3 separate regions of the Homo sapiens genome follow, and all the other regions are reported to be linked to region 1. Evidence: microRNA targets listed by miRTarBase, many of them from high-throughput screens and not tested one by one. Region 1 holds a microRNA gene; each other region holds the end of a gene's coding sequence.

Region 1 (11,109 bases):
AAAAGATCTCCCCAGCAGGTTCTAATGAGCAGCCAAGTTTGAAAGCCACCGACTTTCAATTCATTGTTATGGTGTAGGTTTGGTATGGAATTTCAGGGTATGACAATTAAGGCCATTTTAAACTTATAAAATTTGGGGGGCAGCTTTATCACTTCACTGGTTTTTGTCATTAGTTATATTTGAGGCTACTTCTTTTCTTTTCTTTTTGCTTTGTAAAGCTTCAGCATGTGCCAGGAGTGGTGGCTTATGCCTGTAATCCCAACACCTTGAGAGGCTCATGTGGGAGGATCACTTGAGCACAGGAGTTCAAGACCAGCATGGGCAACATACTGAGACCCCCATCTCTACAAAAAAAGAACTTTGCCGGGCAAGGTGGCTCACGCCTGTAATCCCAGCACTGTGGGAGGCTGAGGTGGGCAGATCACGAGGTCAGGAGTCTGAGACCAGCCTGGCCAACGTGGTGAAACCCCGTCTCTACTAAAAATACAAAAATTAGCTGGGCATGGTGGTGGGTGCCTGTAATCCCAGTTACTTGGGAGGCTGAGGCAGGAGAATCGCTTGAAACCGGAAAGTGGAGGTTGCAGTGAGCTGAGATCGCGCTATTGTACTCCAGCCTGAGTGAAAGAGCGAAACTTGGTCTCAAAAAAAAGAAAAAAAAATTCCAGCATGCTTATTTTGTTTTCCAACTAGATTTGAGTATGTCTTTCCTTACTATAATGTGGCCAGTGTTTCTTGCCTGTATTTTTGTTTTTTATATTTTTGGAGATAGAGTCTCGCTCTGTCACCCTGGCTGGAGTGCAGTGGCATGATCATAGCTCACTGGAGCCTTGAACTCCTGGGCTCAAGCCATTCTTCTGCCTCAGCCTCCTGAGTACCTAGGACTATAGGTGCACACCGCCGTGCCCGGCTAATTTTTAAAATTTTTTGTAGGGACAAGGTCTCTATATGTTGCCCAGGTTGGTGTTGAACTCCTGGCCTCTGCTGATCCTCCCGCCTCAGCCTCCCAAAGTGCTAGGGTTACAGACATGAGCCAGCATGCCCAGCCTTTGCCTATATTTTTGTAGTTATCACAGAAAGTGCTCTTTTATTGGTATTTGTTGGATGTGGTCTCTGCTTCTGTTTGCTTAGCATTTGGTGTAAGTATTACTATTAGATGGGATAATTAATTGAAGAACTAATGAAAATTTCTTTAAACTTAAAGGATTCTGAAGGTGATACCCCTCTTCATGATGCAATAAGTAAGAAACGTGATGATATCCTAGCAGTTCTTTTGGAAGCTGGAGCAGATGTTACCATCACAAACAATAATGGATTTAATGCTCTGCATCATGCTGCACTAAGGGGAAATCCCAGGTATGTCACCCCTTACTATTTTAGGTGCAATTCAAAAATATTTTCCTACTGTTGATTCTCTTTTTCTGATACTGATGAAGAAATAATTTTGGCTATTTTAGTATTTTAAATCATTTTAAAGTTTTGTGAATATTATGCCTTTAGTTTTATATGATGATTATTTGGTTGTTAATCTAATACAAATATTATGAAATGATTATTTAAGTTTATATTAAATGTGGTTGTAAAATATCAGGAATACTAGTTTCTTTCTAAAGATTTAATTAAAATGCATTTTATTTTGAGATTTATGTTTCTTCAAAATAATTATCTGGGTGTCCTCTAATTTCATGTTGCCATTTGCACGATAATTATTTTTTAAAACTTAAGACTAAATAAATACTAAGTTACCTAATTCCTTATTAATAATGTAATTAGTTATATAAACTTCTAGTATAGCTATCCCCTCATCCATTGTTACAGCAATAGTATTCTACTGAAAAAAGTATTTGCTGGTTGACATTTGAGAAAGACTCCTTTTGGAGAATCACATTCTTTATGAAGGATCTGCGGTGTCCCACAGAATGGGAAAATGCTTAGCTTTGCTTAATTTAGAGATTTCCATTAACTCACTTTTTGGAACAACTTTACCCTAAGCATTTTAGGAAATTCTGCATTGGATGTCTTCTGTTTATGTTTGAGTCAAACCTGTATACCTGGACTAAGAAAAATCTTCACTTTGATTTTTATTTTGATAATTTTATCTATTCTGAACACTTATTCTTTGGTTCCTTATTGTATTTTTATATCATGTTTCCTTTAGCTTCTTAGGATCACCACTAGAGGGTGACCACAGGAAACAAAAGGATTTTATTGCTACTGCTTATTGGTAACTGTAACAGTGGGTATATATTGTAGGACAAAATGAATGATCATATTTTAGATCACATCTTGATTTTTTTTCCAAATTGCAAATATTTGAACACTTCAGATTTTGGCATTGTGAAGAAGACAGTAGTATTATATTTCCCTGCCCTTCAAACAGAAGATTATGATAGCACTTTCCACATGCCAGCCTCTGCAAAGTGCTTCACATGCATCATCTCACTTAATCCTTTCAACAGCTTTTTGGGGCAGGTGTTAATATCCTCATTTTACACGTGAAGAATATGAGGCTTATAGAGATGAATTTAATTATTCAAGAACACGTAGCTGATTACTGAAGCAGCTGTAACTTGAGCAAGGTCTAGGTGACTTTAGAATCATAACTGTTAAACCACTTTACATCACCTTTTCTGTATTATGGTCTGTCTGTGAAGCAAGACCAAAACACATGGGCAGTGAATGTGTCAATACCTCATTCCTCTTGCTGCTTCATTGCTTAGAGTTATCTTTGCTCTCTCACCAATTCTTAGCTTCCAACTAGTTTTAAAATTTTACTCATTCTACCAATCCTTCCAACCCATTCCATTCTGTTCCCACTGTTGCTGACCCAATTAAGTACTCACCACATTTACCTAGACTATTATACTATTCTTCTAATTTTTTTCTTTGATTTCAGTCTTTTTCTTGATTTAAATTTTATACATTTACAAATTATCCATTCTGAAAGCATAGGTCTAAATGGCTCTCTTCCCCTGTTTCCCAACTTCAGTTTTTGTCTGTTAACATAGAATACAATCTACACACTTTGGCTTGGCATTCAGACCCATATTCTGTGTGTCCTGAGTCTGTTTAACTTTATCTCCTGCTAATCCAATCCCTCAGCCCGCTTTGCCCATCGTCTATTCTCCTTTCCTAAAATATGCTGTCTGCTTTCTTCTTCTATTTTTTGGAGCATTTTCTTTCTTTGGGATGCCCCATCCCGCTTCTTTATCTTAACCGTCTTTCTTCCAGAGCTACCTCCTGTGTCATCACTGGAATTATTTTGTTTGCTCTATACTTCCTTGTTCTGTGTGTGTTTTTTTTGTTTTTTTTGTTTTTTTTTTTTTGAGGCAGAGTCTTGCTCTGTCACCCAGGCTGGAGTGCAGTGGCACAATCTCGGCTCACTGCAAGCTCTGCCTCCTGGGTTCACGCCATTCTCCTGCCTCAGCCTCCCGAGTAGCTGGGACTACAGGCTCCCACCACCATGCCCGGCTAATTTTTTTTGTATTTTTTAGTAGAGACGGGGTTTCACGACGTTAGCCAGGATGGTCTCGATCTCCTGACCTCGTGATCCGCCTGTCTCGGCCTCCCAAAGTGCTGGGATTACAGGCGTGAGCCACCGCGCCCTTCCTCTGTGTTCTTATTTATTATACTTACTATATACTCTGCTTAGTGCTGTTTATTACTATGTGCACTTCTGTCTTTCTCTTTACATTGTGGGCATTCATATTCATCTGTTCATCCTACATATGCTCTGGCTATACAAGGCACTCAATAAATGTTAGTCTTACTTTGACAGTGAGCACACTGTTAAATATCACAAGATGTTATATGATCAATTACAAAATGAATTCTGTAGAGAAACTGTGTTAGGAATTCAAACAGCAATTACTTCAGATTACAATGGTCAAAAAGATTTTATTGAGAGAATTTAGGATTTATTGAGGGAATATGAAATCATAAAGTTTAGTATAAACTGAGAATTGAAGTGCTTAGGAAACAAGTATCTTTTAAATATTTTGAGTTGTTTCATTTTTATTGAGAGTAGGCATAGTATATTCAATAATGCTAAGCCTATACAAGGAAGAGAAAATTTACTTTTATTTTTTTCAATTCTTGCATAAATCTTGAGGGTTCCCCTGAAAATTTAAAACAGCACCTCTTCCAACCAGATATTTGGTGTCAGGTGACATTTAAAAAAAAATGCTTTTATTCTTTAACAAAGTAGTGCTTCAGTTAAAGCTACATGCCTTCTTTATTCCTACTTCCTTAAGACATTTTTAGGTAGTTGTGACTATAGATTGCCAGATAGAGTGTGATTTTAATTGGACACTGAAGAGTATCAGATGACACAGCTTATATTACCAGTTGTAATTGCAAATTGGGATGTTTTGAATTCTTTTTTTCATATCAAATTTCTTTTTCTTAAGGTTGATTTTTCCCCCCCTATACTGTCCAGTGATGTCAGAAGACAGAAGGTGCCATTTTTAGTGTACTCGGAATTAAAAATAACAACCAGTCTTTTTGGCCTTTATACTATAGAAAACCAGCAGGGTGTGGTGATTTACATTTGTAATCCCAGCGACTTAGGAGGCTGAGGCAGGAGGATTGCTTGAAGCCAGGAGCTTGAGATCAACCTGGGCAATGTAGCAAGACCCTGTCTCTAAAAAATTAAAAAATTAGGCTGGGCGTGGTGGCTCATGCCTATAATCCCAGCACTTTGGGAGGCCAACTCAGGCAGATCACTTGAGGCTAGGAGTTTGAGACCAGCCTGGCCAACATTGTGAAATGCTGTCTCTACTAAAAATACAAAAATCAGCTGGGTGTAGTGGTGCGCACCTGTAGTTCCAGCTACTCGGGAGGCTGAGACATGAGAATCACCTGAACCCAGGAAGCAGAGGTTGTAGTGAGCTGAGATTGCACCACTGCACTCTAGTCTGGGTTACAGATCAAGACTGTATCAAAAAAAAAAAAAAAAAGAATCAGCTGGGTGTGGCATCACAGACTTTTAGTCTCAGCTACTTGGGAGGCTGAGGCGAGAATATTGCTCGAGCCTAGGAGTTTGAGACTGCAGTGAGGTATGATCGTGCCACTGCACTACAGCCTGAGCAACATAGCAAGACCCTGTCTCTAAAAAAAAAAAAAAAGAAAGAAAAGAAAAGAAAACCAGATATAGCACGTTGTTATTTCCAGAACCTGATGAAGTGTCTAGATGTCCTATATTTTTGAAGACTGTCCTTTGAAGTCTCTATTTCAAAGGTGCAGATCAATATGAGTCTAGATTTCAAAGCTGATCTTGATGTTTTCTCATAGTATGATAGTAACTGAAACACATTAAGAGAAAAGAGTTACAAAGCCATTTATTGTTGTCTTTTAGAATTGTGGAAGGGAATATAAATTTTCACTATGAGACCCTGAGTACTTTGGTTGTGCTTTATAAAGTTTGGAGCATTTTAAGTAGAAATTACACCATGTTTTAATACAGTTTTGTTTTTTTTGAGAAATCTTAACTAAGAACAATGCTGTTTGTCTGTTCTGATAGTTAATATTTATAGGCATGTTTTCATCTAGAGTTTAGCCATATTTATCATCTCTTAGTATATAGGTAAAATTTTGGATTTAAAGTAAGAGTAGAAATTATTTCTGCTGATAAAAGTGAAAACTGAATTTCTTTGGAGTAGCATAATCAGCATGTTACTTAGGTACTTTCTGTAAAGATGCTGCATTTTTAGCTGTTTTTAGAGCTCCCTTACAGGCATGAAAATAAATTAGTCAGCAGTATTCTCTGCAGAGCTGGCAAAAACAATCGATAGGTATTTTGGAAGTACAGGTAACAATAATATAATTATAAAGTTTATATAGTATTTACGAATTTTTCTTGAATAGAAATTGAATGTGAAAAGTAAACGTAAAATATGAGTGAATCACCTGATGTGATATATGTTGTTTTTAGGTTGGTACTAAGATAATTTCACAGGCGTTTCTTATTTGCTTACTAATTCCCACAAAGACACATATTACAAATCTTACTGAATATGTGAGCAACTCATAGTTTTCCTTCTCGAATGTTGTGATGCTTTTTTTACTTTTTAAATTCTGAAATATGGTCTGTAAACAAGACTATGTTGGCTATTTGAAGATTTGATAAGCTGTACTGTATTTTGGTGTTTAATGCTTTCCTTACAACTGTAAACATGCTGAGTGCTATCTACAAAATATAGCTGAGTCTATTCGGTAATAGGATACTTAGAGTGTGTTTTCTCTAATGTATGCTCATGCATCTACTCTCAAACACCATATTCCTTGTAATACACAAATGTACTTTCTGTGACTGAGGTGTAATTAATAGGAGGAAGAAGATCTTGAATGAAGTGATAAGATATATATTTATATATGTCTCCTTTTGCCCACAGTCTTTTAGAGAATGATGTTCATTTTGAAATGGAGGAGTGGTCAGGAGTTGAGAATGTGTGAACATCTGGGTCTTTAAACTACTCTTGTCTTCAGTAATCTTCATTAATTGCTGAAATGTTTGTCTCTATTAAATAATATTAAATTATCTATAGTTTTATTGCAATCATTAAGAAAATTATACGGATGTTAGAGTAATTGTCACTTTTTTTCTTTACTTCAGTTTATCCCCACTGAAGGAGAATATTGTGTGTATATTTTTTATAAGGGACAAAGAAGACAGTGAGGAGAGTCATAGTATTTATTGTTAGCAGAGTTCTTCATTTTACAGCTGTGAAAACAAATATGGAGAGGTGAAATATTTCATGAGTAAAAGTAGTGATGCTTAGCATTTTCTTTCTTTTTTGAAGACTAAAAACCTTTGATTCAGGGTCAGAAGAACTAGATAACTGTTTTAAGCCTCTCCACAAGATATTCTACAGTTATCATCTTTTTCACCTTACCTGCTAACATTCAGGTAAATAGCGGTAAAATTAAAGGCCAATACTATGGAAGATAGTGACTAAACATTTCTAGAGTGTTATATAATGTTACAGTTTTCTTTAATTTAAATATGCACACATCCATGTAAACCACACTGTACAATCCCATTATGTGTTCAGGTGGGTTTTAGGTGACCTTTCCAGATATTTTCTTCCTTTGAAGGAAGTTTTTGTTGTTGTTGTTATTATGAAGCATAGCCTACATTTTATTACCAGTTCTTTTCTTTTCTGAAGGATAAGAAATTTAATACCAAGAGACCATAATAAGTAAAATTTTTATTTGAAATCCTTAAGTCATCCATACATTTTTCATAAAGCTTTTTATAAACATCTTTAACCATTCTAGCTTTTCCAGGTAGAATTAACAGTAACAAGTTATTTGATTATAATCACAGTCTGCATAATGTAAATAAGTTGAAATTAGTTGGCAAGTAATTGATATTCACAAATGAAAACGTTGGTTGTCCCGTAGTAATCAATGCATAGCTACAGCTGGTTGAAGGGGACCAAATCCATTGAAGAGGCGATTTGGTTCCATTTTACCAGCTCTAGCAAAGCATTGTAGTGCTGCTAGTTTGGAATCCAAAACAGTTAAATGCTTTTCATTGGTAAAATTACAGTCATGGACCTTCTACAAGTGTTAGAAATTATCATACCAATGCTTCAGTCACTGAATGTCAAATTTTCCATTTTGAAGTCACTTTCCTACTGTTTTCCTGCGCTTAATGGTTTAAAAATCTTTTCCTTTTAACACATTACTGCATTAAGGAATGATCAATGTACGTCTTTGTTTTCAACATCTTTGCTTCTTTTTCTTTTTCTAATCTTGTCCACAGCCGAAGTCTTTGCTTAATTCTTACATGTAGACAATAAGCTATTTCAAAACCAATAGTATTTAAAGGAACAAATAGACCTTGATGTATTTTAGAGTAATGTTTTCCATTTATCTCTAGGCAGCAAACCAGATAAATAGTTAAGCTAAAAGGTTGGGGAAGAGTTCAGTTAGTCACCCCCTTCTACTGCCACTGCTTCTTTTAGCATTATAGTTGAGGGCTAATAGCAAATTGTTGATGGGTGTAGGAATATCAGTGGCCTTAAGAAAGTACCTCTGCCCTTTGATTTATAAATAGATCACATGTGTATTCAGTGTATTGCTTGGACTTGTGTCGAAAGGAACTACCATGCATGCCAGTTTTTCTTTGTTTTTGCTTACGTGGTGTTACTAATCATAGCTTAGTAATTTAACCCTTTTAAAGGTCTATTTCCTTGACTAAGTTCTTTGTCATTTTGGGTACAGATTGCCAAGTTACTTCTCATTATCGCCTTAGTAATACATGGTGGTTAGTTACAATCCATGGATACAAGTATTAAAATCTATTGTGTGGATAATACTTGAAAAATCAGAGTAAATTTTTGTTATAATGTGGTTTTACTGTTGATTTCAATGTCTTGAGAGGGGTGTCTTCTTGCATAAAATAAAAGTTTGATAAATTATAATTTGCCTATAAAGTTAAGTGCTCTCAGAGAAATATAGAGTAGAGAAATATTCTTTACAGTTACTATTTTAAACTGAGAGGTCAACGCTAATTCAGGCAGTATGCAAATGACTCTTACACTAAGTATATTCTGCGTCTGTTGGTTGGTAAGTATCATACTGCTGGTGAAATTAACTACAATTCTTTTTCATCATTTTTTCTAGTAGAAGTGAAACAGGTGTTAAACTGCCTAAACTTAAGTGCTGAAGATAGCAATAATACTGGCTTCTATTTTTACTAGTTATATGGGAGCTGTTTAGCAGATCCAGTTGCTCAAGTGTGTTTTTGGATGGCAGTTCAGTTTCATATACTGGCCATATCGGGGCAAGGAGAGGCCATGGGAAAAAAATAGTACAGCATTTGATAATGTCAGCATCTGTTATCCCTGTCAGGGAGACAGTTGAAATGTTTGAGTTATACCAGTGTCAGCAGATGCCCAGAGTTTAATATGTACTCAGTTAAAAATGAACAGCTGATCTAAGTGATAGATGTGACATTTTAGAGTGATTGAAAATACTCTTAGATAAGTTAAACTCGCAAGCACCAGAATCAGCATATAATTTTACTTTTAAAAATGAATAGCCTGTCATTTTATTTTCTAAGGATTATTTATATAGTCTTAATATTATAGCAAAGAGAGTCTTAGTTGCTAGGATGTTTGAGAAGGATTATTAAACAACTTGTATACCTATAGAATGACCAATATAACTGTTTATTATAAAACACAAGTAGAGTAATAAGCTTTGAGTATTTTTATAGAAGAACCTCTACTTTTGAGGTATATATTTTGAGTTCTTGGTATTTAGGACCTATACAGGTAAACTTACCAAATAGAACATGAATCATTGCCATTCTGTTTTGTGGATGATCAGAAGGGCTATGCTTATGTGAGTTAAGCTTTGAACTAATTTCTTTGAAAGTGTAGAATTTTAAAATTATGTGCCTTTTATAATTTCCAGTAAACATGCAGTAACACATATGATGCCATGTGTAAGTCATTCTCATTCTTTATAATCTGATAAAATGAAAATCATCTTTGTATTAACTAGTCTTATTAAACAGAAAATGAACTATAGTTAAACTTAGTCATTTCCATTCAATTTCTGATACAAAAAATTTAAAATATTATGCTTTTATACATGTGTAAATATTTCAGTTGAAATAATACTTTTAGTAAGAAATGGTTAGAATATGTGAATATTACTCTTATTTTCTAACTTTGTCATTAGTAGCTTAAAACAGGTACTGCTTATAAATTTTGCTAAGAGCATTATTTGGAATTTTTTATAAATAATATACAAACTGTGTGAAATAAAAGTATTTTGATATTTCTAAACAATGGATTGATCAAGTTTAGAGAAATTGAATTGTAATTGCATAGTACAATAAAAACAGTTCTTCGATCTGTATAAATTGGTTCTTGACTATAGTGCTTTCATTTTACATGCCCTCTTTGGAGAAAGCAAATTCGAAGATAATACAGATAAATTAATTTCTTTTAAATATTTGGTAGTCTGTTACCAATATACCCTGCTGACTTACAGCTGTGGACCAGAATTTTGTCATTTTTCATGCTTAAATCTTACATTTTAATTAATTTTAAGTTTTAACTTCACATTTAAAGTAGAGATTTGGGTTAAGACCCTGATAAACTTGAGAAGGAAGGACAAGGGCCACTATGTTTGTAGCTGTCAAAAAAGAAAGCCTTTTTAAAACAACAAAACTTTTGGTCAGAAATTCCTCTAATATTAATTATACATTTATCAAAATGAGAAGAAATAGCTTATTATGTGAATGAAGCCAGCTCTTAGTATCTTATTTTTCTGTACAAATCAGTGAGCCCTACTAATGAGATATACTTAAGATTAAATTGTGGAGACAGAAAATAGGTCATGTGTATTCCTCATTCTTTTGTGCTAGTAATACTATTTTCCCTTTTGCAGTCAAATTTTAATAATGAGAGTGCCTAATTTAAAAATGTAAGATGTCTGTTTTAAACTTAGATGATTTAAAAGGAGTTTCATGATAATTGAAATCTACTTCACTGGATCTTCTTTTCCTTCATGAAATAAAAACCTTAGGGATAGTTTCTATCTATCAGTAGTAGATAACCTTTTTTTTTTGGTGTTAGTATTGCCAAAGGTCATCTGTTCATGACTAGGTTAATTTACCATATGACGGTCATTCACGTAGAAAGAAGCAAGAGCTTCTTTTAGCTCAGTTTAATTCTCCCTTGGTGGTTTATTGCCTACCAAAAATACATACTTCTTTACATTCCATAGCATTGTATGTTCATATGGGTACATAAAGAAGTATGTACTCTGAGTAGGTATTACTAAGTTGTTAGCTGTAAAAACATGAAATATTTTATTTTCTTATTTGTTAGTGAAACATTCAGCTTACTAATGTAGAGCAATGGTAAATCATTTGCAGAGACTAATTTATCGAAGACTAAATTTTGTAACAAGTTTACCTGAAGCATGGCATTAATGGTTCCATATTCTTGGTGGACATAGACATTCCTAAGCATTTGACCAGTTATCTGTTGAACTTTGTCCTGGTTTGATTCTTTTTGCAAGAGATTCAAAGAATCAGTGTAGTGTTACAGAGTGTATTTCGGAAACTTAAGATCAGCCTAGTGTTTC
Region 2 (11,109 bases), not on the chromosome of region 1:
TCAATGTGAAGCACATAGAACTGTGCCTGGCACATAGTAAGCATTCAAAAAAAGTTAGTTATTTTTAACATTACTGTTATTACCTCATAGTATTATTGTCTTAACCACAGTTATGACGATAAAGCACTTAATAAAGCTAATTCTGTCCCCTTTTTGATCTTTTATCTCTACAGTAAAAAGTGCAGGCTTTTCAAAAGCAATACATCCCAGACGCCAACCAAGTGGGCTTAGGACTCTCAAGTATAGGAAGACACATCATGTCTAAACTATGTCTAAAACCAGTTTTATTATACAAATCCCAAGCATGTTGTCTGGTATCAAAAAGTACTTAATATTTACTTAATGAAACATTCTCTTATACATTACCTATCACTGCAGACAGGTGATTTCATAGAAGAGGAAACATGTTCCCATGAAATACCTTAACTCCTGGCATTATGGATTAACTGAAATCCTAAGATTCACAGTATATTAAAATCATGGTGTAGGCCATATGAGATGCTGAATATAAAACTCTCTTAAATGGGGCTGGGTGCAGTGGTTCATGCCTCTAAGTCCAGCACTTTGGGAGGCCGAAGCAGGAGGATCAATTGAGGCCAGGAGTTCACGACCAGCCTGGCCAACATGGTGAAACCCCATCTCTACTAAAAATACAAAAATTAGCTGGGCATGGTGGCACACGCCTGTAATCTCAGCTATTTGGGAGGCTGAGGCACAAGAATTGCTTGAACCAAGGAGGTGGAGATTGCAGTGAGCCAAGATTGAGCCACTGCACTCCAGCCTGGAAGACAGACCAAGACTCTGTCTTAAACAAAACAAAACAACCCCTTTCTTAACCGGATGGTGTATTCTAGCCTCCTCAACAGGACCTATTGAGTAGACATGAAAGACGCAGGCAATAGACAAGTTTTTTTCATTAACTGCTTTGCTTTTGTAATTTATTTCCTTGTTTGAAGTTTCCAGTATTTGAGCTAATGGGCTTCTTCTATGTTAAGATGTGAGCTACTGATATATTGATAATGGTAAAAATGTCAGGTAAGAAAATTTATATACGTACCCTCTATAAAGATAATGGGGGTTTCAAGTAATATTTGCCTTCTCAAGTCACTGCTGTGTCACAGTTGAGGAGAAAGACAGCCTGCCTACACAGCAAAACTGAATAATCTGCACCAATATCTTCCAGGTTTTGATACTACTATCAATAATTACATACTTTGGAATGTAACATATTCAGATGTTTCAAAGTATTCATAATATCTAACTCTGGCTTATCCTGAACAAAAAAGCCTGCTTGCTTAGAAAGTAGAAAGACTGGCCCTGGGAAAAGCACCATTTAAGAGGAAGAAGACTAAAGACAGGGAAAGAGACTAGAAAATACGAAAAAAGATAAGACTGAAAATTATCAAGGAAGTCATAATGCTTGGAAAACTCCATTGCTTTCAATAGATGCATATTTAAATTGACATCTATTACCAAGACCTCAAATAGAGTGGGATGCAGATGATTCACTGGGCTAACAAAATCCAATTTCTTTCACAAGTCCCACCTTCCAGGTTAATCAGAATCCTAGGTTAATCAGAAAAGTAATACTCCAAAATCTCAAAAACCTACTGTTACTATAGGTATAACTGCTCTAAGCCAGGGGAGATCTAACCTAGGCAAATATTCTGGAACTTTATAGATGAGGATTATCTATTACTCAGAGGGTATATCATATAAAACTTCCTAATATCCAATTAGAAAGCAGCAACTTTAAAATACCTAGTGAAGAGAGTCCCTATTATAGAAAGCTAGTTACTCACTTGAACTTTGTCTATGTTGACAGCGCTCACAACAGATTCAAACTCCCTATACTGTATCAGCATGGCCTAGAAAACTTTGTCAAGATAGATCTAATTCAAAAGTCCCTATATCATTTCCAAATGGGAAGCAATTATTCTCTCTTCTTGCAAGGATTTTTTTTTGTTTTAGAGATAAGGTCTATGTTGCCCAGGCTGGTCCTTAAATTCCTGGCCTCAAGTGGGCCTCTCAGCTCAGTCTCCCAAGTAGCTGGGATTATAGGTGTCTGCTGTCACACCCGGCTTCCTGCAAGGATTTCTGTTTATGAACCCCCTAACATTTCCCATTTTTCCCACATCGAGTATAAGTAGGCTATCTGAACACTAAGAATGAACATTCACAAAGCAAACATGTTAATGGTCCAATATGTATTTAGAAGAATTATAGACAATAACAGAAATGGGAAGATAGGTCTAAAAAGAATTTGAAATCCTCAGATGTTTCATTATGTTTCAAAACATCCAGGAAAAAAGGAAGAAAAACTTGGCTTTTTACTGCTCTACATGGAACAGAGTAAGTTTAAAGAAGTTAAAATTAAGATACATTGCAAAGGGAAAAGGTAGGGGTTCTAATCCAGAAAAACAGTACTTTGGATATGAATCAAAATACTTCTTCATAATGAAATTAGTTTTTAATCCACTTGGGAAAAAATTCATTCTTGTCACCATTATGCAAACCAGTTCAAGTTAACTCAGAGGAATGGCAAAACTTACTTACAACTAAACTTTAAAATACCGGCACCATTAAGACAAGGACAAACAACAGGCCAATTCTAAATGCTTTTAAAGTAATGGGAATCATGAAGGAGCACAAAAAAATCATGAAGGAGCACAAAAAGAGTTATGATAAGAGGATCTAGAAAAAGTTGGCAAACTCTTTCAAGAAAACATGTATATGTGACAACATGAATTTAAAACTTCAACCAAACTATTATAAAGGCAAAATGTCATGAGTAACAACTTTAGGAGGTAATTCTTTCTTGGAGTTGGCAAATTTTTTCTAACAAGTACCAGACAGTAAATATTTTCAAGCTTTGTAGCCACGTGATCTTTGTCACAAGTACTCAACTTTGCCATTGTAGTAGAAAGAAGGCATAAACAATACCTAAACAAGTAAGTGTGGCCCTATTCCATTATAATTTTCTTTACACAAGCAAGTAGCCTCAGCATTTGGCCTGGAAACTACTGTTTGCTGAACCCTGATCTAATTCCGTAAGTCCTAAGGGTATATTTTGCTGAGGACATCTTCTCAAACCTAGGGATTTGCCCGACAATTGCTTGTTGCTTTTCTAAATCTGCTTAGCAACCAAAGTATTTCAATATTTTAAACTCTTTCACATATAACCTAAATAAAGAGCTCAATTTCCAAAGACTAAGTTCAATTAAGACTCATTTGTTATTCCTTGAACTAATAAGTACACAGATAAGGGGAAGGACATTTTAGGAAGAGAAAAAAATCATGCCTCTTGTACCTGAAAAAAAGAAAAACTTCCAGGATTCCAACTCTTCCTGATTAAATGCCTTTCACTATGATGAAGAAGACTTTTGTCTTTGTTCAGTTTCCTTTCCATTATCCATTGCTTTCATTTAAGTTAGACAGTCTGGTCAAACAAAATAAATACAGTTTTCACCAGTTAAAAGAAACCCAATTAATGTCAAGTAACAGCTAAAACTCTGGAAAAGTTACTTCTTGACCAAAGATTATTCAGCTATTAAGAATGACATTTACAGCCAGGTGTGGTCACACGCCTGTAGTCCCAGCTCCTCAGGAGGCTGAGGAAGGAGGACCACTTGAGCCCAGGAGTTTGAGACCAGCCTGGGCAACATAGTGAGACCCTGCCTTTAAGAAAAAAAAGAAAAAAATGAAGTTCCCTACTTCACTCTGCCACCAGACCAATTCCAACCAATACCAGATGTCAACTATGAAGTCGGGGGGAAAAAGTTTTTTCTATCTTCAAACCATCTTTGGAAAACCCTGTTTCACTGATGTAGAGGGAACTGGAAACATTTAAAAAATGACAAAAAATAAAATTTTCCTTAACTGCTCTCTTCATTCCCAAACTTTATCCTCTATGAACTAATTTACCTTTATGTATTTGAGATTAGATTTAACCCTCTATTATAATAAAAATGGCATGGGGTAGTTTGCAACTTGGATAAAATAAAATTCAACTTGGTTCAGAGGTAAATACGGTTCTGAGTAAAGAGAGAACAAGTCATTAGAAGGAGCCTTTCTGCCTAAGTACAGCATTAACTGTTCATGCCAATGCTATATTTTATACTGGTATTAGAGTTCAGACAGAATAAAGGAACATCTTAGTATGAAAATAGATTAATATACTTCCGTCTCTCTTCTTTGCTGAGAATACTGGATAGCTCCTTTGCTACTAAGTGCCACTCAATAAATGAAAACAGTCCCAGTGTTTGCAATTTCATGGCATTAAAGTACTTCATGATGATGTAGCTCTCATTGCTAATGCAGTTCCCTTCACAAGGTAACACGTGCAAGTTAAGATTTGGTAATTAATTTTCAGCATCAACCAAACAAAGTCCATTTAGTACATCCTTAAGAGGTATCCTCTGTGCATACACCAATAGCTGTTCATTAATGTAGATAGAACATCAGTAACTCCTATGACCAATGTGTTGTTAGCTAAGAACTAGGACAATGTCACAGTGTATGTGGGTAAGAGTCTTGGACAGTTATTTAGAATAACAACATCTCTTTTAACGAAAAAGCTGAAATTGTTTTCAGAAGTTTTAATTTGTTTAAAAGCTAGCCTGCCTTAAATTTTCATGAATTTTGTGGCTCTGGCTAGGCCAATTGAGAGAACCAGCAAACATGATTGTGCTAAAGTGGTCCTAGATGACCAGGAAGCACCCTATTCACAGTATCAATATAGGAAAAGGCTATTTAAAGTGAATGAAAAGAAAAGGGAGGGGAAACCCACCAAACATTCATAGCATTTCCACATGAATGAGATAGTCCCTACCTCATTTGTTTGTTGCTAACCCTGGAAGGAGAATTGACAAATGCTGCAAAGTTTCTCTTTACAGAAATTACTGCACTTCACCTTTAAAATTTGGTAATAGTTTAAAAAGCTCCATTTTCTCACATATAATCTAAGAAACTAACAAAGCAACAAAGAATTCTTTCTCCAGGCCAAGTTCACTGGCTCATGCCTGTAATCCTAGCACTTCGGGAGGTCAAGGTGGTAGGATTACTTGAGGCCAGGAGTTCAAGACCAACCTAGGCAAATTTTGTAGAGACACCGTCTCTACAAAAAAATTTAAAAATTAGCTAGACATGGTGGTGCATGCCTATAGTCCTAGCTACCTGGAGGCTGAGGCAGGTCAATCACTTGAGCCTAGGAGTTCAAGATTACAGTGAGCTATGATTGCACCACTGCACTCTGGTTTGGGTGACAAGAGGAAGACACAGTCTCTAAAAAATATAAAAAAGAAGAAAAAGAAAAACAGAACTTTCTAGCATACTATTTCTCAAAAGTAGGATGGACTTAAAAGTTTTTTGGTAGGCTTAAAGGCTCCATCCAAAGCAGCATAATCTGTACTTCTCACCTCACTGCCTATTTAGTAATGACAAAATCTGTCCACTGAAAACCTTATTACCAGTTGTTTCCCTAAGGATTTTTGGCTAATTCAACTTTACCTTTTCTATGCCACAGAGCACAGCCAGTCCCTAAAGATGGCTTTAGAAGACAGTTTTTTCCTTATCATGCTGTTGTCTAACTAAAGCGGAGGATGCACCAGTCTATGTCTTCTAAAGACAAAATACAGTTTCAATGCTGCCTTTAAGGGTAGGCTCTTATTAAATGGTAGCATCATTATCTTCCCATAAAAGATGCATTTCTATGCTTTTTCAGAAGATAAAATAACCTTTCTCTTGTGAGAGGGTGCAGCTTTATGTACATGTACAATTCTCAGATTGCTTAAGATCTACCCTTTGCATTCTAATTTCTTATCTCAAAGAGATTTCTTTCTTTTCTACCCACCTTTTCACATACCACAAAGCAATCTCAGGAAAGGAGCACATGACTAACATTCTCACAGATGGTTCACCAGTGCAGGTACAACCTGTCCCTCTGCCAAATCTCTTTTACAGTCATCTATGCCTCTGCACTGAAACAATTTCTTAAACCATTACATACTTAAAAGAACCCCAACAACTAGTGCTCCGTCAACAGAAGCTAGAGATTTTTCAACTTGCACTGTAAGTTATAAGCATCTATTTGCCGGCATCCCTTAATATTCCTCCTTCTCTCACTTCATGAAAGACGGGGTATCCAAAGCTCTACATGTTTGCTAAGTTCTTTCTCTCAGTGCTGGATTAAGAATCTTAGAAATACCCAGAATTACTAAAAGGGTCCCTTGAAGTTTTAAAAATCTTAGGAATGACTAAGTAACCAAACCTGACCAAAATTGATCCTTTGATCATTTATTGCAACATGATTCTGCATGATGTTTTCTGATAAGTGCCCTGTAGTATATTATTAAAAAGCAAAGCTCTTGGAGTCACCAGCTATGGTTTGCTGATGGTTGGTTTATGAATTACTAGGTTTGCAGACCCGAGACATAGTTTTAAGTGAGGTCCTTCTATATGCCTGAAAATATAAACTATTACATATGTATAAGGAAATGAAATTGTGGTTGCAGTAAGAACCATAGTGTTGAATTTCTTCAACCACAATACTGCAGAAAAAACATGTTTAAAACTTCATATAAAAGTTATCAAATATGGAGACCTGTGGATTTAAAAATACAATCCAGGCTCATTTCACTGGAAAGTGACATTTTTGATTACAATATTGCTGAACGTGAAAATAGGAGCCAAAGAGACTAGATGAAACTTTGGTAGTCAGCCTAACACATTAATTCACCTGAACTAGAGCCATTACCCAAGGATGTGTAGCACTATGGTTTACAAATACCAGTCAGGAAGTTGCAGAACGGCTCTGTGCTGTTTGATATTTGCAAAACATAAAAACACTTCCCTCCCTGCTCTCCTCTTCCTCAACACAACACTCAAGCCCCCCAAATGTAGCAGTACCTATTGCATACACTTTGCTGCTCATTTCACTCCCAGTTGCCAAGTGCTTCAGGTGATGTTGTCCACTAGAATACTGCTTCAAGATGGCTGATTATATGAAATAACCAGGCAAAGTATTAGATGCCTAGTCAGGGGAAAGATAAAGCCTAACCTTTCAAAATAAGAACCACCAGTATTCATTTTTTTCTTGAAACACAAAAATGCATGTTATGCCAGGGAAGGAAGAGGAGAAATTTCTCCTCCTCATCACCATCATGACTACCTCCTCTCTTGCGGTTGGCTGCTTCGGATGGTTGAGGCTCCTGCTGCATTTTTTAGATCCGGGCAATTATAGCCACCAAGATGATATGGACCAAAGTACAGTGTTCAAACATGACTGATAGATAAATGACCATTTATCATCATCGTTTTGTTAAAAAACCTTTTTTCTTATAAAGTTAACAAACCAAGGCTGTTGATCCCTGAATTAGAAAGTTGATTTGCTTGATTATTTTCCAAAGTGTGAGGCGGGCAATAAGAAGGGAGGAGCCTTTAGTGCTTTTGTGTAAGTTGCTGATCCTCCAGTTTGGCAACATCTTGGGAGCATCTTCTGGCCTAGTGATGTGGCATTTTGTGAATCTAAGTATCAGCCCATGGCTCTGATGCTGGCTGCTTATGGCTCATAGGGGAAGAGGGTCAGCCCCCTCCCCCTGGATGTTTCAGTCTGGCCCAGTGGTGGACACAGAGCCCTGGACAGCTTCCCCAGGAGCAACTGTCTCTTCCTGTGAAGGTGACTCTTCCTCAGCTTGTCCTCGAGATGTGACAGTTGTTTCAGGGGAGATGCTGTGAGGCCCCTCCAGGGGTATACAGCCAGGGTGGTTTTTGCGAAAGTGCTGATTCAAGATGGCCTGGAAGGGGAAACTTTTGCCACAGACATGACAGTGAAAGGGCTTGTTGCCTGTGTGCTTGCGGATATGATACTCCAGCTGATCTTTCCGGGTATACTTCTTGCCACACATGCGGCAGACGAATGGTGTGATCCCCATGTGTAGGCGCATGTGGCGGTCCAGGCTTCCCTTCTGGTTGAAAGATTTGGCGCAATAGATGCAGGTGAGACGAGGGTTGTACCGGAACCACCGCTCAGATACTTCCTGCTCTCGGAGATACTCCACATAGCCACTTACTCCCATCATTGCTGACTCTTCTACCTGTACCAGGTAAGGAAAATAACCAAGAAAGAACAAATATTATTAAGCATACATATTAAAAGCAATCAAATCTATTTTTACTTGTTACTAAGATATATGTACCTTTTTAGTGGCGGATCAAACAGAAAATTATTACCAAAAAGTAAAGATATTACCATAATAATTTTTAAAAAATTGAGACTACTCTATTCCATTACTATAAAAGAACAACACAGTAAAGTTACTTTCTGGCTGACAAACTGGATGCTTATTAAACCCCTGCTGAATGTACTATTTTACAGTAATGTGAGGAGAAACTGAGCCCACTTATACTATACCCTGGATCCTAATCTTACAATTATATTCTAGACAATCAAATACTTAGGCAGTGCTGGTCTAACAGAACTATCTGTTTTTGTTTTTGTTTTGAGACAGGGTCTCTCACTCAGGCTGGAGTGCAGTGGTGTGATCACGGCTCACTACAGCCTAGACCTCCTCAGGATCAGATGATCCTCCCACCTCAGCCTCCTGAGTAGCTGGGACCACCAGCACGCACCACCACTCCCAGATAATTTTTGTACTTTTTGCAGAGACGAGGCTTTGCCATGTTGCCCAGGCTGGTTCTGAATTCCTGGACTTTGGCAATCTACCCACCTCGATCTCCCAAAGTGCCAGGATTACACGTGTAAGCCACGACGCCCAGCCAGAACTATCAATGATGATGAAAATGCTCTACCCCATTCATTACAGTAGCCACTAGCCACCTGTTGCTATTGAGTATTTGTAATATGGCTAATACAACTGAGTAATTTTTACAATTTTAAGTGCTTTCAGTTAATTACAATTTAAATTTAAATAGCCACATGTGACAAGTGGCTAATGGCTACCATTTACTATATCAGATAGTATAGAATATATAATGGCAACATATTATAAATTGTGACATTATCATTAATACCACATTTTAATCTAGCAGTAGCTAGCTTTATAAAAATGTATACAATTTGTAGGTGACAATATTCCTTTTTATGTAAAATATTTCAGTATCATATGAACATATTATTTTCACTCTAAAGACTACTAAAGTTTAACTGACTTCAGAGTAAATTGTCTGAGGGCATGGGTTTCTTTTATCCGAAAACTGGGAGGCAGTATGAACATATTCCTTTCAATAAATTACTTAAAAATCTTGGATTTAAGGCCAGATGTGGTGGCTTATGCCTATAATCCCAGCACTTTGGGAGGCTGAGGTGGGAGAATAACTTGAGCCTAGGAGTTTGAGACCAGCCTGGGCAATATAGCAAGACCCCACCTGTACAAAAAATAACAATAAAAAATTAGCTGGGTGTGGAGGTGCGCACATGTAGTCCCAGCTCCTTGGGAAGGCTGAGGTGTGAGGATCATTTGAGCCTGGGAAGCCAAGGCTGCAATAAGCTGTCATCAGGCCACTGCACTCCAGGCTGGGTGACAAAGCAAGACCCCACCTCAAAAAAAAAAAAAAAATCTTTGGATTTAGAAATGCTTTTTGTTCAAAATTCTGTATTAAAAAAATCAATCAGAAATTATTTTTTTAACCTGAGTTAATAATGACTGACTTCTGAAGTCATTATATTAGAGGAATAAAAACCTTTTTAAATATGTAGGAGGGAATTATATGTTTAACAAAGAATAAAGTACCAATGCAAAGAGAAGAAAATGTCAAAGTTGACTCTGGAGTAACTGGAGCAAGATTCATCTAGTTAGCAATTAATATTGTGCCGGTACTTTTTCCCCTAAGATAGACACTATAGAAGATCTTGTGCCCTTTTAATTTCTAAAAATGTGTTTTGTCCCTTCCTATGCTGATGGTGCTATTCAGCCTTTCCAATAGAGGCAGTTCTCAACAGGTTTGGGAAGCAGTATGTAAAGTCAAGGGTTGAATACTAAGACTGAGGTTTTAAGATTATTTTATTTGTTTCATATTAATATTTCTTTCTGCTTCATTTCCCTGGATAAAAAAAACTGAGTTCACATAAAGAATGAGGAATCATCCCACTAAAGGTCTTGGGTGACCAGGGACAAAACAGAATAACTTCTCTAAGGCTGTCTTCTCATCCATAAGGTACAAAGGTTATCACATGATTTGCCAGCTTTAGAGGATTCTCACGAGAATTGAACATGATAACAGTACACTTTTCTTTTTTTTGAGACGGAGTTTCGCTCTTTTTGCCCAGGCTGGAGTGCAATCTCGGCTCATCACAACCTCCGCCTCCCGGGTTCAAGCAATTCTCCTGCCTCAGCCTCCTGAGTAGCCGGAATTACAGAACGCACCACCATGCCTGGCTAATTTTTTGTATTTTCAGTAGAGATGGCGTTTCTCTGTGTTGGTCAGGCTGATCTCGAACTCCCGACCTCAGGTGATCTGCCCGCCTTGGCCTCCCAAAGTGCTGGGATTACAGGCTTGAGCCACCAGGCCCAGCCAACAGTACTCTTTTTTCTAAATACAATGGTAACTTTTAGGACCTTCAATGGTCCCAAAATATTATGCGATGAATGCATAATATTACATAGCAATTAAAGATGCTGGAACCTGTGTTCAAATCTGAGTTCTATTTATTGTGTGACTTGGAGCAGGTTAGTTAACACTTCTATTCCTCAGTTTCCTCACCTGTAAAGTGAATATAGTAATAGCATTTGCCTCACTAGTTGCTTTGAGCATTGAATGAGTTAATACACTAAAGTACTGAATAAATGTTAGCTATTATTAAACATTACAAATTCATATTATTTATAATCTTGAGGGTAACAATACCCTAAGAAATCTCCCTAACTCTGAAAGGATTTCCTATTTAATAAATGGTGCTGGGAAAACTGGCTAGCCTTATGTAGAAAGCTGAAACTGGATCCCTTCCTTACACCTTATACAAAAATTAATTCAAGATGGATTAAAGACTTAAATGTTAGACCTAAAACCATAAAAACCCTAGAAGAAAACCTAGGCAATACCATTCAGGGCATGGGCATGGGCAAGGACATCATGACTAAAACACCAAAAGCA
Region 3 (5,208 bases), not on the chromosome of region 1:
TTCTTCTGCAGTTGTTACCCAGAATTCTATCACCAGATGCTTAAGCAAACATTCTTGTGCTTTGCTGACAAAAATTTATTAATAATGATCCTGATTTTAGAATTCACAATCTCCTGCATTCAGCAGCTACTTATTAAATTACTATTCCTTAGTCCAGGTAAAAATTTCATGAAGAGGCCCCTAAAAAAAGTGTTTCATTTAAGTATAAAAAACTGTTTCTATATAACTGAACATCCCTGTACTTTCATAAAATATATATTTAAAACTTTTTTCAGAATTATATAGCTAGCTGTTTTTCAAATGACCCCACCACTTTATCCATCAATATGCTTCTCTCTTCTCTTCAGCTTAAATTACAAAAGGTATCATTTTAATTATTTTTGCCAGCACCAAATCCTCTTGGCCCTATTTCCTCTGTTTTGGAAACTTTCAATGCTTAATGATTCCAACTCTAAAAAACTGATTATAGTTCAAAGCATTTTTACCATGTAGGAACATACTTATTAAACTACTTTTCTACTGGTTTGAAACTCATCTATGTTCATCTTTCCTTTCCTGTTTAAATTGTTTGATATCTATTGATGGTCATTTAAAAACTTAACACTATTAATATGTACTTTTTTGATGTCTTTACTTATGGAATTATGGTACCTTTTGCCAATAATGAGAGGGTCTATACTAAAATATAAACTTTGCATTGAATTTATAATTCTGGTTTTTCTTCTAGGTCATCTAGGAGTACAAGTACATCTACTTCTCAGTCTTCAATTAAAGTACTGGAGCTTAAATTCCCGGCCTCCTCTTCACTAGTAGGCAGCCCTTCTAGGCCATCTAGTGCTAGTAGTAGCTCTAGTAATGTTAAGAGCAAAAAGAGCAGCAAATAAACATTTTAATCTCTTCTGAAAAAGTTGTAAACACAAAAACAAAAATATACTTTAAAATACAAAACGACCCAACACATTTTATCTAGTGGAAAGTGTAAAAACTTAGTGGTAAGTGTAAAAACTGATAGTTTTAAAAAAAAAGGAACGTTCTCATTTTCTCTACTGTTTTCTTCATACTGAAGAAATTAATAGCAGATTCTTGACAAGGCTACATGTTATACAAGCATAGGAAAAATGCTGTATTTCACTGTAATTCTGATGTTCGTAGTGTTAGAAAATAGTTTGCTTCATTATTTCACGAAACTACACTCACTTCTAATGTAACAATCTTTCAAGAAGAAATTTCTAAAGATTTACTGTACTATTATGAGCGTATTGCAATGTGAAAATCTCATTTACCCTACAAGACACCAAAATTAGGTTTTCTTTATTCAAAGTAACTATTTCTCAGACTTTTGGGGAGAAAAATTGTTAAAGGCAGTTTCTTCTTTTGCTATAATTTTTAACCAAAAAATAGCATCAACCCCTACCCACCCCACCCCCCCAAAAAAAAACCGGTAAGAGAAACACTGTATATCAATTTTAAAATGCAGCATAAATTTAGAAAAATCACTTCTGACCTTGAAATAAATCACTTCTGACCTTGAAATAAACGCATTAAAGATTTGCTTTCAGATACAGCCAACCAAGTATAAACAATTTTGAAATTTTCTTGATTTAATAAACGATTTAATGAAAGCTAGGTATGACTTGATTTGCAATAGAAATTTCATTTACAGTTGGAGGTAGACTGCCAAATGTAGTAGTTTTTCCAGTTAACACTTCATTATAACATGTGCCCAACACTTTGTACTCTTGGAATAGAGTGTGGAATATTATAAAACTGGATTTTAAATAAATGTATTAGAATTCACGAATGTACATGTGTCTCCTTCAAACCTTGGGAAAAAATGCTCATTACAACTGTCATTATTTTAGAACTGTTGTTTGTACTTCTTTCTGAAAAGCAGTAGTGGTAGTGAATAGTTCTCCTGATTATTTTTTGTTTTGTTTTAGAAATAGGAAAAAGGCATAGCAAAGTCAAGAATAAGGTGGGCGAAAAAAAAGGTAGGTAATAAAATTTTTGGCTAAAGTACTGCTCTAATGCATGAGATTTATAAGACCTAAAAACTAATTAAAGTCACTTTGCTCATCAAAGTTCTTATTCTCAGCCCTGTGCTAGTTTGGGAATTACTTAAAACTTGAAGTAATATTAAACACTCTTCTATGAAGGTAGAGGTTGTATCTTACTAGCTCTGTAACCTTGGATAGTTACTTCCCTGTTTTCCTCATTTGTACTATAGACACAGAAAGTTACCTACAAGTTTACCGAATTTGATAATATAAAAAAGATGCACAGGGCTTGACACACAGAAATTGCACTATATAACTTCTACTTACTGAGTTGCCACCTGGAGCTTAGCACAGAATTTGTGGAATGGTTTGGTTCTTGGGCCAGCATACGAATCTACATTTAATCCTTAAATAACAGTTCTAACAACTTCAGTGTAGTAATGACAAATGGTGCGACAGGGGATCAACCTATCTCCAAATCTGGACACTTATCCTCATATCCAAAAGTCATGCTTCATCTGCTTATGGAGACCAAGATATGGCAATATATGATCTTGAGAAAAATTACTGAAGATGTCGCTATTCTTGACAATGTAAATCCCCAATAATTTTTGCTGTGATGAACTTCCTTAGAAATTGGTTTGTATACTCTGCTTAATATGGCATAAACTGCAATTACTTTTGCGCCTACCTAATAAATTCAGGCAGCCTACAGGATAAGGTACTATTCTCTTACATTGAATGGGGTGTAATAGCCATTCTGACTGATGAGAGATATCTCATTTGGTTTTAATTTGCATTTCTCTAATTAGTGATGTTGAGTATTATTTCATACGCTTCTTGGCCATTTTTATCTCTTCTTTTGAAAAATACCTATTCATGTTTTCTGCTCACTTTTGGATAGGGTGATTTGGTTTGCTGAATTCCTTGTAAATTCTGGATGAGTCCCCTGCCTGATGCATAGTTTGCACATTTTGTCCCATTCTGCAGGTTGTCTGTTCACTGTGTTATTTCTTTTGCTGTGCAAGAACTTCGTAGCTTACTTAAGTCCCATTTTGTTTTTGTTGTGTTTAAGACACCAGTCTGGCTGTCACCCAAGTTGGAGTGCAGTGGCACAATCAGAGCTCACTGCAGCCTCGAACTCCTGGGCTCAAGCGATCCTCCCGCATAGCTGGGACTATAGGCATGCACCACCACACCCAACTTATTTGGATGGAGTCATGCTGCGTTGCCCAGGCCAGTCTCAAATTTCTAGCCTCAAGCAATCCTCCTCCCTCAGCCTCAAGTGCTGGGATTACAGGCATGAGTGACTGTACTCAGCCCCTCTTGCTTCCACTTTTGAGGTCTGAATCATGAATTCTGCCTACGCCAATGCTGGTAGGTTGGCAGGGGGGTAAGGGATGATAAATTATGAAATGGGTACAATGTACATCATTTGGGTGATGGTTACACTAGAAGCCCAGACTTCACCACTACACGATAGATCCATGTAACAAAAATGCATGTGTACCCCTTAAATTTATATGAATTAATTAAGGAAAAAAAAATTTTTTAAATGTTGTGTTTAAAATTTTAAGCTGAACTAGGGATTCCAAAAGGTCAAAGGCTATGTATGCCAAGAAGTAGTTTTCACTCTTTCTTTATAAACACGACTTTGTAAAGATGATACTGGAGCTATTAATACATAGAATTATTAAGGACTCTTTTTAAGATGAATTTCTTAAAGAAGCTTCTTCTTGGTGCAAAGACTAATGCTTTGAGTGACTAGCCGATTTCTATCACCATTATCTATTGCTCTTGACCAGGGTTTCTTTTCACTGTTCCATTTGCAAAAGAAATTTCAGATTTTTCACTAGGCTCTCATTACTGGAGTTTGATAGACACAGATAATACACACCCAGTACTTAAGGCCTGGACATTTTACTGTTGGCAAGAACTGCAAGACAGAACAAGGAATAAGTCTCTTCTTCCTCTATTATTCTCCCTCACTTAGACCTCTGTAGATCCTCAGCTACCCACCCACTTATCTAGTGTCATTGTGTGTGACAGTATCTAAAGTCCATTGTAATTTACAGCTTTGAGAATCTTAAACTGCAAACTCTAATGACATCATAAACCCAGTACCTATGACTCCTATCTCTATCTGTCTCCCAAAGAATATACCACACTATTTTCAGCAATTTGGGGAGGATCTTTATAATCCAAGTCTCTTTGTTCTTCAGCTCTAGCTGCTGGAATTTATTATTCTTAGTAAAACCAGGCTCTAGTTGGTCTAGTTATTTATTCAGACTCTGAGAAAGGGGTCATCAGAGAAGCATCAAGGCACAGGAGGTGGTAAGAAGAAATGCAGGTCAGATTTAACGACATGCCTAGTGCCTTCTGGACTGAACATCTGCTACACTAGGAGAGTCTCCCAATTTTCTTTCCCTAAAGAAAAGCCAGATTTACAATGTGCTTCTCTGCTACTGCTATGTTTTTGCTAAAAGGATTTTTTTCTTTTCTGATTTACCCTTGCGTGGAATACAGGCCCTAAGGGCCTTGTAAATATTTAAAGTTAAAAAGCTTTTTATGGCTATGCTAGCAATGAGGTAAAAAATAATGGAGAAATAAGCAAAATGGGCTCCTATTCAACTTTTATGATCTTATTCCTAAGGCACTTATGCTGGGTGGAAGCCAATGACTGTTCACAAACCACTTTTAATCAAATTGGGCTTTAGAGGAAAATTAAGACATATAATCTACCATTTAAAAATTTTAAAAAAAATTGGGCAAAAAATGTAATATTTAAACTGATAAATATAAAAGTGTTCAAGAAACATTCGAACATATAATCTTTCAAAAGCTGACGATTTTTAATTTAACAGAAAAGAAAATGAAATTAATTTTTATAAAAATGATCCAAGTGTTCAATGCACAAATTTTTCTCTCAAACAGCAGAATAAGATGCACCCAGGAATTCTCATATACCGCAATAGAATGAAGAAACAGTACTTTCAGAGAATTATCTTTAGGTGAAGAAATTCAAACTGTCAAGAGTAATATACTGTACATAAACATATACATAAAAAGTCTAAAAACCAAGCTGTGACAAGGGACCTAGAACTGAAACAAAATTTGAGAAAAACTTACTTAAAAGCATTTGTTTCCTGTAATCTCTACAAATAATTTTAGAAGCAGAGATTTCTGCACTCAACTGTTATGACTAATACAA

The links. The annotated mature microRNA hsa-miR-133a-3p reads UUUGGUCCCCUUCAACCAGCUG and lies in region 1 at 7,419-7,440, opposite strand. An mRNA with a match to its seed (bases 2 to 7 or 8) in the 3' UTR can be bound and repressed. Matches are read on the target gene's strand: a 7mer-m8 pairs with bases 2 to 8, a 7mer-A1 pairs with bases 2 to 7 and ends in A, and an 8mer does both.
Region 2: miRTarBase lists ZBTB37 as a target of hsa-miR-133a-3p. The part of its 3' UTR that is shown has no 7-base or 8-base seed match.
Region 3: the mRNA of CCDC39 is a reported target of hsa-miR-133a-3p. The part of its 3' UTR that is shown has no 7-base or 8-base seed match.

The regions. Positions count from the first base shown.
Region 1 is chr18:21,818,294-21,829,402 of GRCh38, forward strand. It overlaps MIR133A1 (microRNA 133a-1), which reads right to left and starts at 7,492; the gene lies at 7,405-7,492. It overlaps MIB1 (MIB E3 ubiquitin protein ligase 1), which reads left to right. Exons shown (of 21, transcript NM_020774.4): 12 at 1,202-1,353. It overlaps MIR133A1HG (MIR133A1 host gene), which reads right to left. Exons shown (of 3, transcript NR_110369.1): 3 at 7,186-11,109. MIR1-2 (microRNA 1-2) reads right to left here and starts at 10,795; the gene lies at 10,711-10,795.
Region 2 is chr1:173,882,620-173,893,728 of GRCh38, reverse strand. It overlaps ZBTB37 (zinc finger and BTB domain containing 37), which reads right to left. Exons shown (of 5, transcript NM_001122770.3): 5 at 1-8,093. The coding sequence ends at 7,605. Among named protein-coding and RNA genes, the nearest start is that of ZBTB37, 20 kb to the right of the region's middle.
Region 3 is chr3:180,610,597-180,615,804 of GRCh38, reverse strand. It overlaps CCDC39 (coiled-coil domain 39 molecular ruler complex subunit), which reads left to right. Exons shown (of 20, transcript NM_181426.2): 20 at 728-1,797. The coding sequence ends at 884. TTC14 (tetratricopeptide repeat domain 14) reads right to left here. Exons shown (of 12, transcript NM_133462.4): 12 at 4,675-5,208. Among named protein-coding and RNA genes, the nearest start is that of TTC14, 11 kb to the right of the region's middle.